Regions from separate parts of the Homo sapiens genome. Here region 2 is linked to region 1. The links come from fine-mapping of genetic effects on gene expression. A gene starts in region 1. The other region holds a variant in brackets. All regions are shown on one strand. Distances are from middle to middle.

Region 1 (8,000 bases):
GGTCTTGAAGCATAGGATAAACTCAATATTGCCCTTAACCCCTGACAAGGAGGCCCCTTCCCTGACCCTAAAATTTAGAGGTTCCACAAATCACAAACACATACAAAAATAAATGCATTAAAGAACATATATGTGCATCTGTCTCTCAGGATCTGGGCTTAGCTCTGGCAACTACAATCTGAAACATCCTCTCTTGTGATTCAAAAAGGCCACTAAGAGAAGCCACTATTTAAAGTGTTCTCAACATACACGCATGTATGCACACACACGCACAATATAACTAAGTGAGGTGATAGATGTATTAATTAGCTTAATCGTCGTTATCATTCACGATGTACACCTATATCAAATCATTATGTTGTACATTTTAAATATATATAACTTTCATTTGTCAGTCATACTTCAATAAAGCGAGGAAGAAAAAAGGTCAGACCAGAGGGAAATACTCCGAATCTCTCACCCTATGTTCTTGGAATAAAAGCAGTCAAGTTTGAATGCAGTGAGGGTTTGAGGACTGTACCACTCCAGGTTCAGTGCTGACTCCGTTTTATAGCACAAGGAGGAGCTGAACAGCAGAAATGCTTAGAGAAGAGAAAGATAAGTTGAATTCTCTTGTCAAATTCTCCCTTGCAGGTAGCATGGATGCATATATTTTTTCATCATGAAGTCTCACTTCCGAATAGGGCCAATCATCTAGTGTCTTGCTGCTCTGTGTTCAAATTCATATAGTCTTGGAGGTGTTCCCCTCTACCTGAACGGTGGTACCACACACCTCCAAAGTTAGAGGCGGGCCTGGGCACACTCACCTGCAGACTTGGATATATTCTGTTGGCAATGGCTATGACTTCTGTCAACTAAAAGAAAATCAAGCTTTTAAGGAATTAAAGTTAGTTTTATTCAGAAGTCTTACTGAGGTTCTGTAATCCCAGCATTTTGGGAGGCCGGGGCAGGTGGAACACCTGAAGTCAGGAGTTTGAGATCAGCCTGGCTAACATGGTGAAACACTGTCTCTACTAAAAATACAAAAATTAGCTGGGCGTGGTGGTGGGCGCCTGTAATCCCAGCTACTCCGGAAGCTGAGGTGGGAGAATCGCTTGAACATGGGAGGCGGAGCTTGCAGTGAGCCGAGGTCGAGCCACTGCACTCCAGCCTGGGCAACAGAGTGAGACTCTGTCTCAAAAAAAAAAAAAAAAAAAAAAGCAGAAGTCTTACTGAGGACTAGAGACTGAAGACAAAGTCTGGGAGGAGTCTTTCAGAGAGGTCCTGTCCCACTGCTCTGAAACAGTGTTTTAGCTCATAGCTGATATACACGTAGCAGAAGTGCAGTATGTGCTCAAACATTACATCAAACTTGCTCAGAAGTTACAGTAAAGCAGAATCACATGAAAGTCTGGGTGCAAGAGTATATCTGGTTATAGATGATAGAGGCATAGTCACTAACCTTGTCAAACATTATCCTATGTGTAGGAATAGGCAAGGTCTAGGGTCATTTATCTTTTAAGAAATATAGTGTCTCAGGCAAAAGTTGTGGGGGCCTTGTGCTGTATCCTGCTTTGTTTTCAAAGCATTTTTCCAGAGAGGTGCACATCATTACAGAATCAAGGGCTTGTGAAATTATGCAGCAAGTAAAATGAGCAAACGTGGCTTGTTACATTTGCTGTGTCTCACATTTCCCTTTCTCTTTTAACCTCTCCCTTCCCCAACCCGATCCCGACCCCTTGGAGAAGGGGCTGTTGCATTTGACAAAGAAATTGATCCTTATGTAGAGTAAGCAACTTGTTTAAAGTCATCCAGCAAATTAGAGGAAGCCCCATGCTGGGAGAACCCATCCTTAGAGGCCCAGCTAGAGGTCCGCAAGTAGACAGTGGAGGGTCGTAGGTAGGAGGACAGGCTTGGGGTCAGAGCAGCTCGGTTTACACCTGGCACCCTCGTTCACTAGCTGTGCAACCTTGGGAGCAAGTGTCTCAGAGTATTTAAAGGACAGTTTTTTCTATTCCTATACAAGATGTTAACATTAAGGGAAGCTGGTGACAGGTATATGGGAACTCTCTATACTATTTTCGTAACTCTTCTATAAGTCTAAAATTATCTCATGATAAAATTTTTAAAAATAACAGTTTCCTCTTATCTGTAGCATGGAAAGAGTAAGGATATCTGTCTCCTAGGAGGCTTCGATGAGACAGTGCCTGGAAAGGGGTTAGCACAGTGTCTGGCCCATGCTGACGACTCCATACATAACAATTCTTAAAAGCTGCCTCCTCCAGGAAGCCGGTGAGCACCACTGGCAGAACCAATCACTGCTTTCTCAGTAGCCCCACACCCTCACTGCCCAGGAGCAGTTTATTTCAGTGTAAAATGCCAGGCGGCTTAATGTGACCACTGACAGCACGAGTTTGATCCTGGCTTTTCTGCTTCTCAGCTGAGATCCCCAGCAAGTTACTTGAGCACTTTGTGCCTCAGTTTCCTTTTGGTAAATAATAAAAGTCTGTACATTATAAGGCGGTCATGAAGATTAAATGAACTGGAATTTTTCAGCACTTAGAACTCTGCCTGGCCTATAGCAAACTCTACATACCTATTTTTATGCTCCAGGTCAGTGGTTTTCTAACTTGCTTTTTACTGTTACCCATAGTAACAAATATGCTTTCCATCACAACGTGTGTATGTGTGTGTGTGTATAAATAATTTTAAAGTGGTAATTTCAAAAACATTGGTCTCTAAGAGATGATCACATTTTGTTTCCCCCATTAAAATATAAGGTACTTGGGGGACAGGGAATAGTCTGACTCATTTTGGTCTCCAATCACTTCATTTCCTTCTTTCATTTAATTTACCAAGCTCCTATTATCTATTCATTAGACATAAATATATATTGAGCATTAACTCACTATGTACCTGTTACCTACCAGCACAGATCAGACCTGGGTTGAATCAATGAACGGGTAAGGCAAGGAAAGGAGGTCGCAGGGCAGAAGGCAGGGAGGAAGGGCAGGAGGGTGAAATGGAAGGAAGGGAGGAAAGGTGGAGGGGAGGAAGGAGAGGGGGAGGGTAGGAGGGCGAGAAGGAAGGAAAAGAAGGAACCCAGGTTCCCAATTGGCAGCAGTACCCACTTCCAACCCCTATGTTGCCACTTCCACCTCGGCAGGAAAGTTGCCCCTTCTCCAGCCATCTAGGTCCCCTGTACTCTTTCCCTGGGGATGGAGCTGGGTGCCGGTGCAGGCATCGGAGGAGCGGTGCCGGGGAACCCGCCTCCTCACCTCTTGCCCCTAGCACGGGGCGGTGACTCCAGAGCTGGGAGCCTGGCAGCGTCCTCACCCCAGGAAGGCATGCGCCCCTCTGCGGGCGGCCCCAGCCCTGGGCCCCCTGCCCCCGGAATTGCCCAAGATGCCGGGTGACTCCTCCCCGGGGACTCTCCCACTCTGGGACGCGTCACTCTCCCCACCCCTGGGTCCGGACCCCGGCGGCTTCTCGCGCGCGAGCCACGCGGGGGACAAGTCGCGGCCACCTGCTCCGGAGCTGGGGAGCCCGGGCGCCGTCCGCCCGCGCGTCGGTTCGTGTGCCCCGGGCCCCATGGAGCTGCGGGTCAGCAACACCAGCTGCGAGAACGGTGCGTACGGCAGGGCTGGGGACCAGGCGGGCTCCGCGCTTCGCGCCCTCCCCTCCTTGCCACCGCTCTCCCTCGCATCCTCTCCTCCCAGGGGGGCCAAAGCTGGGGAGGGGCAGGGCCAGCACGAGGTGGCTCCCACCCAGCTTTGAAGATCTGGGTTCTGGCTGAGACTTCACTTTCATCTTCGCAGCTGGGATGGCTGAGAGGAGTCAGGGAAGGAAAGTATGTCCCCTGGGTTGAGATGGGGGGTTAGTGGGGGGCAGGCATTTTGACGACAGCAGACACCCTGAGAGGTGGTGGGGGCGGGGGGAGGATTCTGTGTTTTTAATGTGTAGTTGCTTCAGGTTTTAGTACCTGCGCAGTTTGGGCTTTCTCTCTGGGTCAATGGGAGGACCATCACAGGACGGTCTTGTCTTTGGAAAAGAAAAAGAACCACAGGAAGGGGTAAAGAAAGACCCCTGACTTCCTATTGCGTTCTGACCATAAAGCAGGTAGTGGACTAGGCCCTTTACCCGCATTATCTCACTGAATCCTTAAAACAACTCTAGAAGGTAGGTAGGTATTATTATTTTACTATCTTGCTATCCCCACTCTAAAGATCCAGAAACTGAGGCTCTGAGCAGCTAATAATTTGCTCAAGGTAATACAGTGAGGAAATGGAATATAGATCCAAGGCTGGTGGACAGTAAAACCTCAACTCCTTCCTTGGTGTGGCTCCACTTTCCTACCTTGTCTTGGAACTGCAGGCTGTGGCATGTCCCTGTTTCTCTAACCTCTTCCCTTCTACAGTGAAGCTTTCAAAGCCAGCCTGTTAGGTGTCTGACTTTGGTTTCCTGAACAAGGCAGGCATTTTCAGCCTCACCTTTTCTCTAGGCCAGAATGTGTTCCCCAGTCCTAGCATATTCTGGAAGAGATAACAGGAATCATCTGGCCCATGCTCAGAATTGGATTACTTTGGCCATCAGCCCTCTGTCTTTTACTTTTCACTGCAGTGGGAGAACTTGACTCAATGGAGGATGCTCAGCCCTTGGGTGTTGCGGGCTTTACTGTGACAGCCAAGTCCATCCACAGAGGGTTCGTTGGCTCCATCTGCTAGAGGTGCACCTTCAGGGAGCAGGGGAAGGGCGTGGGGATGAGTTTGGTCTTCCTCTCAGGAGTCACCTCCCCTAGCCCATGTTCTCCCAGGTTCTGGCTCATTTCCTGGGCTCAGGGAACTCCCCAGATTCAGCTCTTGGGCAAGGAAGCCTGAGCTGGAGAAACAGGAATGAGCAGTGCAGAACAAGTCTGATTAGGGACTGAGATGCCTCTTGTCTCATCTTCCCTTGATTGTGACACGAGTTTTGGAAAGAGAGATATCACACTGCAAAAGACACATGGATGTGCCCCAGTGGGTGCTGGATCCAGATCTTTCACCAGATGTTGGGGTGACTTAAGCAAGCTCTTCCCTTTCTCAGGGCCTCAGTTTCCCCAGAAAAAATAAGAATTTAGACTGCTTTCTAAGGGCTCTTCAAGCTCTGTTATTCATGGGTCTGTGTCGTGGAAGAAAGGTCAACATTGCCTTTAGTCTGTTCCACCAAGATGCCACTCTGCCCTGCAGATGTGCCAGAGCCAGAGTTGCTTGACCATGGACTTTGGGGCCCTTCCAGGCACTGCCTGGGAGTTCTAGGTTGGTGGGAGAAATACTTGGTTGAGGCTTACATCCTTGGCATAGGGACCTGGGCCTTGGTGACACACAGCTTGAAAAAGGCTACCTCCAGAGGTAACAAACTCAGATGCCTACAAAGGCCAAGCACGTGCTAGAAATTACTGAAAGGAGCCAGATAAGACTCTTGGGGAACTGCAGAGAGTATGTCCTATTTTAGGGGGCAACACTGCCCAGCTGCAGCCAGTTGTTGCCTTAGAAGAGGGCCCAATATGGTAAGCAGATCTGATTTTTCACCGTAGCCTCCCATCTGAATTTTCATGGAAAATCTCCCAATTTTTAAATGTTTTCTATTTTAAAATACCTCTTAGGGCCAGGCACGGTGGCTCACGTCTGTAATCTTAGTGCTTTGGGAGGCTGAGGCAGGAGGATAGCTTGAGGCTAGGAGTTCAGACCACCCTCTGCAACATAGCAAGACCCCCATCTCTACACAAAAAAACAAAAACAAAAACAAACAAAAAGCCTCTTAGGAGGCCAGATGCTACCTGCTTTATTGAGGTGTGTGTGATGGTTAAGAGCCTGGGCTTTGGCATCAGATAAGCTTAGAATCTGACACTGGCTTCACTATTCAGTACCCATGTTTTGGCTTTGGGCAGGTTACTAAACTTATCAGAGCTTTGGTTTCTTCAACTAAAAGCCTATAAAAGATTGTTGTGCCTGCTTCCAAGTGGTCATTAGAAACCCTCCTGGAAAACCCCAGAGCAGAGGACCATGTGAGTAGTAGCACTGAAGAATTATTGGCTATTCTTTGCAGTTTCATTGAACTTATGTACTTCTTCTGACTGAGGGTCTGCCCTTGTGCCCAGGTTTGTTATCTGGCACGTGGTGGTACAAATTTGTTGTGGTCATGCAAAGAAAGCCCCTAACTAGCGTAAGCACTCACTGAACATAATTATTTTTAGGTGGAGGCACGGTATATGGGTATAGCCCTGCAGTAGCGGAAGCACAGGGTTTGAAACAGTGGCCAATTCCAATATTTTAAAAGTGTGCAATTGTCCCCAGTGTGACTCTCTCACTGTGGTCTTCCCATCCAGGTTCCCTGCTCCACCTCTACTGCTCCTCCCAAGAAGTCCTGTGCCAGATTGTCAATGACCTCAGCCCTGAGGTGCCCAGCAATGCCACCTTTCACAGCTGGCAGGAAAGAATCAGGCAGAACTATGGCTTCTACATCGGCCTGGGCCTGGCATTCCTGTCTAGCTTCCTCATCGGCAGCAGCGTCATCCTCAAGAAGAAAGGCCTCTTGCGACTCGTGGCCACGGGAGCCACTCGAGCTGGTAGGTTCCTGGGCCAGGAGAGGATAGGGCCCAGGGCAGCTGAGCTCTCACAAGGTCCGGGGCTGTAGTCTAAGAGGATGGCCTCAGCAAGGTACAAAAGGCTCATTGTCAACCCTATCTGGAATCCCACCTGCCAACAGGGTTAGGGTTTAGGGTTATAAAGGAAGGCCTCCAATAGGAGGTCTCAGTTTAGAGAGCAAACAGGATGCCTTCCTTTAGAATCCAATCTTTCCTGAGACCTTCATGATGTGTTTATTAGAGGAGGGAAGGGACAAGTCTCAGGACCAAGAATCAGATATGCATGTCTGGTCTTGGTCTTACTTCCCACCAACGTCATCACAGGCAAGTCACAGCTTCTCTGCAAAATGGGAATAGATACTTCTGCTCAGAACAATGTCAGACGCTGGTGTGCCCTCACTTAGCATCCAATTGAGCTCCCTTCTGGGCTGCCAAAAAATGGTGAACTGTCTGACCCCAAGGGATTTGCTTGTTTGGAAAATAAGATGTTTTTCCGTGAAACAGTGCTTGAGAAAAGGAATCCTGTGCAAAATGACTCATTCATTTAATCACCATTTATCACATGCCTGCTGTATGCCAGGGACAATGCTAGACATGGGGATTCAGTGTCCTCGTGGAACCTTCAGTCAAGTGGAAGAGACAGATGAGTCAATAGGCAGTTGTTTTATCATGTGTTAAGTGCCATCATGGGGAAAACACAGCCTGCTATGGGGGAATATTTTGGAGGGGTGTGTAAAGCCCAGACTTGGGGGATTAGGGGAGGTTTCTCTAGAAGAGATGATCTCTAAACTGAGACCTAGATTATGAGGAGACAGCAAGGTAAAAGGGGAAATAGGGAGACAGTGTTCCAGGCAGAAGGAATAACACGTGCAAAGGCTCAGAGGTGAGAGAACTTGAGTGATACTAGAAATCGAAAGTCATTCAGAATGGCAGGAGCAGGAGGGGTGCATGGTGAGTGAAGGGCCAGCTCATGAAGGGTCTTGTAAATGGAAGTACAGAGGCTGAGTGCAATTGTTAAGTGACTGAAAGGTTTTAGGAAGGCGAGTGACACAGTCTAATTTGCAATTTGAAAAGATCCCTGGTTGCTGGGTGAAGAACGGATTAGGGGACAAGCCTGGAGCCTGGGAAACCAAGTAGGTGAGTGAAAGGACAGAACTTGAGCCCGGGAGACGGAAATGGGAATGGAGACAACTGGTGGATTCCAAAGCTAGTTTTTGAAGGTAGAATTTACCAGCTTTGATACAGACCGGCTTCAAGCAAGGGAGGAGGGGCGGGGGAAGGAGTCAAGGATGACTCATGCTTTTGACTTGAGCAACTGGGGTGATGAAAGTGCTATTTCTTGAGATGAAGAGTGTAGAAGGAGGGACAGGTTTATGGGAAGATGATGCATTCAAGTTTG
Region 2 (10,120 bases), 26 kb after region 1:
CTTGGCTTTTGTTCTGGAAGTTCAGTCCAGACCACAAGAAGCATGAATTGCTTTGTTTTCTCAACTCTACACCTGCCCCCCTGGAGCCCTCTGGTACCAGCTTTCACCTTGAGGGCTTCCCGTGGACTCACCTTTGGGGCAAGTGCTGCCAGAGGCCGGGACTGCTGAGGGCCAGCACCAGGGGGCCGCAGTGGGGATGCACCTCCTGGCCTGGGGAGGCTCCTGCGGCCTGGCACTGGGTTTGCCGGGAGTGCCTTCTGGGGCGGCCGAGGCCTGGAGAAGTCCTGGAGAGAAAGCAATAAGCCTCACTTGAAGGCCAGAGGCCTGTTTGAAAGAAAATATCCCTGATATCTTACAGGTTAAAATCAGATAGATAAAAGTTATATACTGTATGGTCCCATTTAGAAAGAAACTGTATGTATAATGTGTTTATATTCTCAAGAGGAAGTCAGGAGAGCAAGCTGGCAGTATCTATTAAAATTACAAATAACCAGTGAAGATGATCTTTTTTTCATATGTTTGTTGGCTGCATAAATGTCTTCTTTTGAGAAGTGTCTGTTCATATCTTTCACCCACTTTTTGATAGGGTTGTTTGATTTTTTCTTGTAAATCTGTTTAAGTTCTTTGTAGATTGGGGATATTAGCCCTCTGTCAGATGGATAGATTGCAAAAATCTTCTCCCATTCTGTAGGTTGCCTGTTCACTCTGATGATAGTTTCTTTTGCTGTGCAGAAGCTCTTTAGTTCAATCAGATCCCATTTGTCAATTTTGGCTTTTGTTGCCATTGCTTTTGGTGTTTTAGTCATGAAGTCTTTGCCCATGCCTATGTCCTGAATGGTATTGCCTAGGTTTTCTTCTAGGGTTTTTATGGTTTTAGGTCTTAGTTTAAGTCTTTAATCCATCTTGAGTTAATTTTTGTATAAGGTGTAAGGAAGGGATCCAGTTTCAGCTTTCTGCATATGGCTAGACAGTTTTCCCAGCACCATTATTAAATAGGGAGGATCTAGAACTAGAAATACCATTTGACCCAGCAATCCCACTACTGGATATATACCCAAAGGATTATAAATCATTCTACTATAAAGACACATGTACACGTATGTTTATTGTGGCACTATTCACAACAGCAAAGACTTGGAACCAACCCAAATGCCCATCAATGATAGACTGAATCAAGAAAATGTGGCACATATACACCATGGAATACTATGCAGCCATAAAAAAGGATGAGTTCATGTCCTTTGCAGGGACATGGATGACGCTGGAAACTATCATTCTCAGCAAAATAACACAAGAACAGAAAACCAAACACCACATGTTCTCACTCATAAGTGGGAGATGAACATGAAATGAGAACACATGGACACAGGGAGGGGAACATTACATACTGGGGCCTGTTGGGTGGTGGGGGGCTAGGGGAGGGATAGCATTAGGAGAAATGCCTAATGTAGATGACGGGTTGATGGGTGCAGTAAACCACCATGGCATGTGTATACCTATGTAACAAATCTGCACATTCTGCACATGTACCCCAGAACTTAAAGTATAATAAAAAAAATTACAAATAACTGTTCTCTGATCTAGTAATTCTACTTCTTCTGACCTATGTTAGAGAACTATTTGCACACGTGCACAAAAATGAAACTGCAAGGTTGTTCCTTGCAGCACTGTTTGTAACAGCAAAGAAACTATAAATAAGCAAAATTTCATCAGCAGAAAAATAACTAAAATTATAAAGTGACAGATGATATAGCACTTAAAAAGAATGAAGTAGGTTGATAGGGGCTGGCGTGGGGAGATGTTCAAGAGTTGTTAGGTGGAACAAACAAGCTGTAGAGGATAGTTGACATAAAATAAGTCAGCACGCTCACCGCCTAATAGAAATGTCTGTAACAGAAAAAAGGAAGGATACAGACCAAAGAGATTACACTGGGATGGGGTGCAAAAGGGGAGGGGTGTGTTCCAGGTGAACATTCCATTTTTTTTTTTTTTGAGATGGAGTCTTGCTCTGTCCCCCAGGCTGGAGTGTAATGGCATGATCTCGGCTTACTGCAACCTCTGCCTCCGGAGTTCAAACGATTCTCTTGCCTCAGCCTCCTGAGTAGTTGGGATTACAGGCACCCACCACCATGCCCAGCTAATTTTTGTATTTTTAGTAGAGACGGGGTTTCGCCATGTTGGTCAGGCCAATCTCGAACTCTGACCTCAGGTGATCTGCCTGCCTTGGCCTCCCAAAGTGCTGGGATTACACGTGTGAGCCACCACGCCCAGCCCTTGAACATTCCTTTTTTTTTTTTTTTAACAAGAGCATGTACGTGTATTGCCTGTTAAGATTAAAACAAAATTTAAACAAAGCAGCAGCTATATTTTGTTCATGTTGGTTGTCCATGTGTGTGGCACATTTCATGGATTCTGTCCTTCCTGTGTTACTATTACCTTCATGTTCTCACCATCTCCACAAGGCTTTGCCCTGACTACCTTATTTAAAATTACAACAGCCCCCACCCTGACATTCCCTGACCTTTTTATCCTAATATACCTCTTCTTTTCTTTTCATATCACTTACTGCCTTACAACATATATAATTTATTTACTTATCCAGTTGATTTTTACTTTGTGTCTCTCCATTCCCCTCTAGAGTGGAAGCAGTGTGGGGTCCGTATCTGTTTGGTTCACTGATACATCTTTGGCTTCCAGAACAGTGCCTAGTATACAGTAGGTGCTCAACACGTATTAGTTGATCCATTGTTTTTTAAGGGGCAAAGAATGACTGTCCCACCCGCAGGCCCCCAAGCTGTTGGGGTTTAAGGGGAAGCCAACTGCATAGAAGGGAGTTCCAGTGCCTGCTCCCCTTGACTTCCTTCCCTTCTCGAGAGGGTCACTACCACGTATTAAAGTGGACAAAAGGCAAGCACATAGAGAGGGCAGGAATAACACAAAGAGCCGAGATTTTCCCCAAGAAGCTTCATGGAATCAGAAACTAAAGCAAATTCTTAAGGCCAAAAAGCCATGTTCTTCAGCTCTATCTAGAAGGACAATACAACCCGCCCCCTTCACCACCACCTTCCCCAGCTCAGAATAGCTGCCAAGTTGCAATGGTTGCTGGAAGCCAGGATAGAGACCTTCTGGGGCAGGTGACAGCTGGGTGCAGATGTCAGGTTGCAACTGGGAAAGGCTGTGCTCCCAAGGGAGCTGTGCAAATGAGCCACTGAGGGGCTGGAGTTTGGGCAGGAGCCTCATCAGCATGTCAGCACTGGGCCTCCCAGGGCAACCAGCCACAGGCCACATCTGCGATGATCCAACTCAGCCCTACCAGGGCCCTCGCCCAGCACTGTTTTCCTTTTTCTAGAGCAGAAACAGTCCCTCAGCTACTCTGGCCCATGCTCCCTTCCACAAGGGATGGCATCTTACTCAATCAGATTGCACAAGCCTGACACGGGGCGTCATCCCCTGCCAAGCAATGGATCTTCAACTCGTTATCTATTTTCTCTTCTGCACATTTCTCATCAGCTTCACTTCATCAGCCCTGCCTACTCCCTGCTCCAAGCTTTTACCATCTTTCTTCAGGACAACCTTTAAATCTTCTAACTAGGACACCCATTTGCTTCTAGAGTGACTTTCATTTTTTAAAACTATTTTAAAAATTCAAATATAATACACACAGAAAAAGGCGAACAAATCATAAATATACAACTAGATGAATTATCACAACGTGAATACACTAAGTAATCCCCATGCAGGTCAAACAGTAGATTAACAGCTTCAGAAGCATCTATGGGCCCCTTGCAGGAACTACACCTCTCTCCTGCCTAAAGATATCCCAAAGAGTGATCAATCCTTGTCAACAGAAAATTGCATCATGTCACCACTGTCCTCTTCCTATGGAATACAGACCAAAGTCCTGACCAAGGCTATGTGGCCTGGGCATAGACGGGCTCCTCCTGGCTTTCCAGCCTCATCTCATAGCTCCTTGGGACCCAAGCACACAAACCTTTAAGTTCCTTCAATCCACAGGGCCCTCTCCCATGACAGAGCCTCCCTACTAGTGGGTCCTGGGACCAGGAAAGCTCCTTCATCACTTGCCCTCACAGCCTGGTTAAGTCCTGTTCCTCCTTCATGTCTCAGCTCAAATGTCACCACCTCAGGGAAACCTTCCTGGATTTCCCAGATTAGGTCAAATCCTCGTTACTCTCTTCTGAGCACCCTGAGCCTCTCCTTCACAGCACATATCACTGTTGCAGTGACACATATCCCAGAGTCACTGCCCCAGCAGAATGTGAGCTCCTGGAGGCAAAGCTGCCATCTGCCTTCCTCGTCATTGCCTGGCCCAGAGTGCAGGTGCATAAGCCGGTTTAGAATAGCAGAACTGAAGAAGTGATGAGGTTTCATCTATCACTTCTCCAGGGGGTCCATGTCCCCCAGCTAGGAGGTGGGGAATCTTTGATGGCAGACTGGAGACTGTGAGTGGCCCCAGGGCAGGAGGCTGTCTCACTCAGCTGGATGAGACCTGGGTTCAAGTCCTAGCTCCTCCACTCACAACTGTGCAATGTCGGGCAAGTCCCTTCAATCCTATGAGGCCTGGCAACCTCCAAGAGAAATGAGGGCTGCAGCAACTCCCTTCTTGGAATGGCTGTGAGGAGGCAGGTGGCAGCCCAATGTCATCACAGCAGCCCCCACTCAGAGCAGCTGCCTCCCACTGTTCGCTTGTAGAGAGACACCCACCTGGGACCCGGGGCCCAGGAGAAGCTGTGCTTGGGGGCTGTGTTTTGGGGTGCCTGCCACTGGCTGGGCAGCTTCCTGCACCCGGGACTCCTGCCAGCAGTCCCAGGGGTGCAGGTGCAGGGTATGCACAGCCTCCACCACTTAACAGACAGCTGGGTCCCCGCTGTCCCTGACACTTCCTGACCTACGGCTCAGCACCTAGGGGTGACAGGGGTGAGGCTGGCCCCGTGTTCTCTGAACATGCCTCTAGTGTGGGTTTTTCAGAACAACAGTCTGAGTGGACTGCTCGCCCGACCCACTCCCTCCTCCCTCTGCTGGCACTCCTGTTCTCCTGTAACCCCAAGTCTCTACACGCCTGCTTTCTCCCTTTCTTTCATCTCTCTGTTAGGGACTGAACTGTGCACTCATCATTTAAAAAAAAAAAATCATATGCTGAAGCCCTAACCCTGAGTACCTCAGAATGTGACCATATTTAGAGATAAGGTCTTTAAAGAGGTGATTAGGATAGAATGAGGCCACCTAATCCAATCTGGTGTCCTCATAAGAAGAGGAGAGTTGGACAGGCAGACACCAGGGAGGCAGAAGTGCATAGGAAAGGCCTCGTGAGAACACAGCAAGAGGGCGGCCACCTGCAAGCCACAGAGAGAGGCTTCAGAAATCAACCCTTCCAGCACCTTGACCTTGGACTCTTAGCCTCTAGAACTGTGAGAAAATAAGTGTCTGTTTTGAAGCCACCCAGTGTGCAGTACTCTGCTATAGCACCCTCAGCACACGAGTACACTCTCCACCTCTCTCTCTCCACTCCTCCCCTCTCTTGCTTTTTTCCTTTCCTCTTTCCTTCTCTCTCCCTGTCAATCTTTCCTCTCTTTCTGCATGGATTTTTCCATCCTACCTCTGCCCCACATAAAAGGAAGGGGAGAGCAGCAGTTTCACAGCAGAGAAACAGAATGGATGCCCTCAGCCTTCCCAAACTGTACCACTGCCACACATCCCAAGGACCCTCCAAAGCCTGCAGCCAACCCCAGAGTCCTTAGGGTCAGAGACAGCTTGGGTTCCATGGAGCCCTCTGGATTACACCCAGAGAAAGCAGTCTCAGTTGAGGGGTCACACCCAAAACACACAGGCCAGTTCCAGAAGGCACCCCACC[C/T]GGCCGCCACCCAGGAAACACCTGTGTCTGCACTGGGGGATCTCCTGCAGAAGGTGTGGTCAGAGCCATCAGAGCACACACACGCAGTGGGAACAGGCTGCTGGGCAGGCTATGCCTCCAAGAGCACCAGGGCTGGTGGGGGAGAGTCTAGACCCCACTCTCACCTCCCAGAGGCACCTGCCCCTTGGGATGGGCAAGGCATCAGGATACATCCCTAAGACTTTCCAATCAGTAGAAGGTACCAATAGGTACAATTTGGTAGGAAGAGTACTATGATGAGAGAAGTACAGTCCCATCAACCTCAGAATTGAGGAATCAGGATAGACTTCCTGGGAGAAGCGGCATCTAGGAGCAGATCTGAGGATGAGCAGGAGGTGGCCCCACCAAGGAGAGAAGGAGCGTATCAGGCAGAACAAGCAGCATTTACAAAGACCTAGCAGGCAGACGAGCATGGGGGAACTGACAGAAGTTAATATGGGGTGGAAGGTGGGTAGTGGCTTGTCATAAAATAGGCCAACCCGGGAGAAAATGCCACATGGTTTAGGAGCTTCTTAGAGAGTCTATTTCCCCACGTTCGTTGCTCTAACCTGCTGTGCGCCCCCGTATTGACTGAATTGCAGAAAAGGCAGTCAGCTCATGACCCCACAAGTTTCACCTTCCCCACCTTTGCCATTACCCATTGAAAGTGGCCTTAAAAGCAATGTTCCCAGCCCAAGGTTGCTGATTATCCACTTACCTGGGAAACGATGCAATTTGGTGCGGGGGGAATTGGCCGGCTTGGAGGAGGCCTCCTGGACGACTCCGTCCTCTCTATTTGAGACCCGGGCCCTGGGGAGTTCCTAGCAGCCCTGCTCAGGTGAGCTGGCAGTGGTGCAGGTGGGGACCCACCACGCAGATAATCTGGAGGGGGCCGGGGAGGAGGCTGGGAGGGCTTCCGCAGGATTTCCGGAGTGTTGATCACCTGTACGCACAAGTCAAGGAACACCTGAGACAAGAAATCACTCAGGGCTGGCCTTGTGTGTCTCTTTGAGATAAACCAGAGCCCAAAGGGAGAACAGACACACCAATCTATTAAACCCCTGAGGATCCCAGAAGTCAGATGCAACCTTTAAAGTCATTAGGGGATGTCAGAACCAAATAACATGTCTCTCCAGCCAATAAAAGGGCTTTTATTACCAATCCCATGGGCCCACAGAGGCTCTTAGAAAAACACAGCATGGCGGCCGGGCATGGTGGCTCATGCCTGTAATCCCAGCATTTTGGGAGGCCGAGGCGGGTGGATCACGAGGTCAGGAGATGGAGACCATCCTGGCTAACACGGTGAAACCCCGTCTCTATTAAAAATACAAAAATTAGCCAGGCATGGTGGTGGGCACCTGTAGTCCCAGCTAATTGGGAGGCTGAGGCAGGAGAATGGCGTGAACCCTGGAGGCGGAGCTTGCAGTGAGCTGAGATGGCGCCACTGTACTCCAGCCTGGGCGACAGGGCAAGACTCCATCTCAAAAAGAAAAATACAGCATGGCCCTGAGGGATAAAGGAAAAGTAGCAAAGTTCAGTGGTGCAAAGCTCTTACCTTTCGCTTGCCCTGGGGCGTCTGCAGCTTGAAAGTTGGGTTGGCATGACCAGTCCCGCTGTTCTGAGAAACCCTGAAGGGACAACTAGAAACAAGAAATGGGGGAGGAAAAGAAAGGGGACGATGTTCAGCAGGGGACAGTGCCTGAGTTCCCTTTGACCCAAGCACGGCCAGCAAGCAGCTAAATCTTTCCCAAGTCTGCTCTGGAGGGAGTGGGATTGGTCTTCTCGAACCACATCTTCCTAAGTAGAAAAACGTGTGGCCAATGGAGAACTCTCAAGGAAACAGAGTTGGCCTTATACAAAGCAGAGCTCTCTCAGCACCTTCTCTTCACCCTTTTAAGACCCTTCCCCTGTGAGGAGACACAAGGGTGTCACGAGCCATCAACCAATCCCCATCAGGCATAGATCCAGAAAGACCTGGGACTTAAAATCCCCTCCAGAACAAGTGTTATTTAATAGGTGACTCAGAGACTGTACATCTTCCATATCCAAAATAATACATCACTTTTCAAATGGGACACCAAAAGCGAGCAGGAGTAGCTATTCTTATACCAGATGAAACAAACTTTAAAGCAACAGTGGTTAAAAAGACAAAGAGGGGGCTGGGCATGGTGGCTCATGCTTGTAATCCCAGCATTTTGGGAGGCCAAAGCGGGCAGATCACCTGAGGTCAAGAGTTCGAGACCAGCCTGGTCAACATGGTGAAACCCCGTCTCTACTAAAAATACAAAAAATTAGCTGGGTATGGTGGCATGCACCTGTAGCCCCAGCTACTCAGGACGCTGAGGCAGGAGAATCGCTTGAACTCAGGAGGCGGAGGCTGCAGTGAGCCAAGATTGCACCACTGCATTCCAGCCTGGGCAACAAGAGTGAAACTCCATCTCAAAAATAAATAAAATAAAATGGGGAATAAATCAACTAGACAAAGGATGGCAAATAGATTTTATTTTATATTTCAACTTGATTTGGTTGGGGATATTCTGCTGAGAAGAACTCAGGAGTGATGACCAGAATCAGTAGAGTACTTACAATAAGATCAACTAGTAATGCCTGTCACAGTCATAGCAGGGGAGAGGGCAGCATGTATCTTGCACTTGTCTTCCCTGAATTAGACCCACTATCACCAACACTTTTGCTAAGTACCATTTATGGAGACCTTTGTGACCCATAAATTGACCCTGAGTCCTCCATTGAACCCTGTCATACCTGAACTGTTGCCTCAGCTTGGAAGGGAGAGCTGAGGGCTTGAGTTGGCCTAGTTTGTTGTTCTGTCTGCAGCAGTAGTACATCAGCATGAGGACCGCCAGCACCAAGATGGCCACCAACACTCCAGCTACCACAGGACCCACACCTTCCAGAAACAGAACCCAAGTGGGAGATTTAGAAGCTGTCTCGGCTACAGCAGATTTCAAAATAGGTATTCGTGCTTCTTCTTCAGGCATTTGATTTGCATTTAATTTGTATTACTTATTTTAACTTACAAATTATAATTAAAAACACACATTATGGGCCGGGCACAGTGGCTCATGCCTGTAATCCCAGCACTTTGGGAGGCCGCGGTCAGCAGATCACAAGGTAAAGAGATCAAGACCATCCTGACCAACATGGTGAAACCTCGTCTCTACTAAAAACACAAAAATTAGCTAGGTGTGGTGGCACATGCCTGTAGTCTCAGCTACTCAGGAGGCTGAGGCAGGAGAATCACTTGAACCCGGGAGGCGGAGGTTGCAGTAAGTCGAGATCACACCACTGCACTCCAGCCTGGGTGACAGAGCAAGACTCCGTCTCAAAAAAAAAAAAAAAACAAAGAAACGAAAAGACTCAGACAGATTTAAGACTAGACATCTCACCCATAATCCATAACTTAACATTTGGTTTCATCAAAACTACCCCAATATTCTCTCAAGTGGTTAATGTAAATATAGAGAACGTATTTGTACTAACAAAACACTACTTTTTATCAGTTTTACATATTGGGGTTTCTTCCTTGAAAGATTTTGGTGCTTTTTTTTTAAAGTTATTTGCTATTTTTTTTAAAAAAAAAACTTTAGAAATCATAGTGCTAGAATCCTTGAGAGATCCACTAAAATACTATAAAATTTTCTGAGTGTCTGGTTCTCCATTTTAACTTGTGTCCATCAGAGGAAATCTAAACCACCATAATGTGTCCCAGGTTCATGATTATTTTTAAGTGCCCAAAGAGAAATAGTCACCGTGTCCCCTAAAAAGAATGGGAACATTCAATGACCTACAGTCTCTCTTACTCTCACTCTACTAAGCGGGCTCCCCCTCCTCAGTAGAAAGGATGGGAGAAGAGAGACTGAACCGTGTCCCCACACCACACTATGAGCAGTCGCTCCTCTCTCTTGGTCTGTCTTTATCCTGATTTCCTCTCTACAAAATCAGGACAATGAAGCTGATTCAATGTGGATGCTCTGCAACATGCCACCTGCCCCTGATGCCCGCTCTTCTCACAAAAGCGGGCAGTGGCCCCAGCAGGCTGGCACTCACTCTCAGGGGGCATAGGCCCACTGTCGATACTGCCCCCGTGGCCCGGTGTGTTGCAGAAGGGCGGGGCCCAGCCCGGCAGGCAGTGGCAGTTCTGGTTGTTGTTACAGACCTGGAGCAAAGAAAGGGCAGAGGCATCAGCACCCCAGAGAGCATCAGCCACCCACA

The links. PIP is the estimated chance that this variant, and not a neighbour inherited with it, causes the effect. A credible set is the group of variants that fine-mapping cannot tell apart.
Region 2: its variant is the best candidate, but not a certain one, in a credible set for the expression of NIPAL4 in whole blood (TOPMed, PIP 0.89).

Annotation. Positions count from the first base shown.
Region 1 is chr5:157,456,751-157,464,750 of GRCh38, forward strand. NIPAL4 (NIPA like domain containing 4) reads left to right here and starts at 3,463. Exons shown (of 6, transcript NM_001099287.2): 1 at 3,463-3,607; 2 at 6,344-6,583. The coding sequence starts at 3,571. It overlaps NIPAL4-DT (NIPAL4 divergent transcript), which reads right to left and starts at 3,350. Exons shown (of 3, transcript NR_136205.1): 1 at 3,258-3,350. RefSeq lists a silencer at 3,357-3,516.
Region 2 is chr5:157,481,660-157,491,779 of GRCh38, forward strand. ADAM19 (ADAM metallopeptidase domain 19) reads right to left here. Exons shown (of 23, transcript NM_033274.5): 18 at 9,956-10,064; 19 at 8,651-8,795; 20 at 7,443-7,527; 21 at 6,606-6,830; 22 at 132-284. Among named protein-coding and RNA genes, the nearest start is that of NIPAL4, 27 kb to the left of the region's middle. RefSeq lists an enhancer at 4,802-5,302 and a silencer at 4,970-5,059. The variant C/T (reference allele first, on the strand shown) is at 5,870.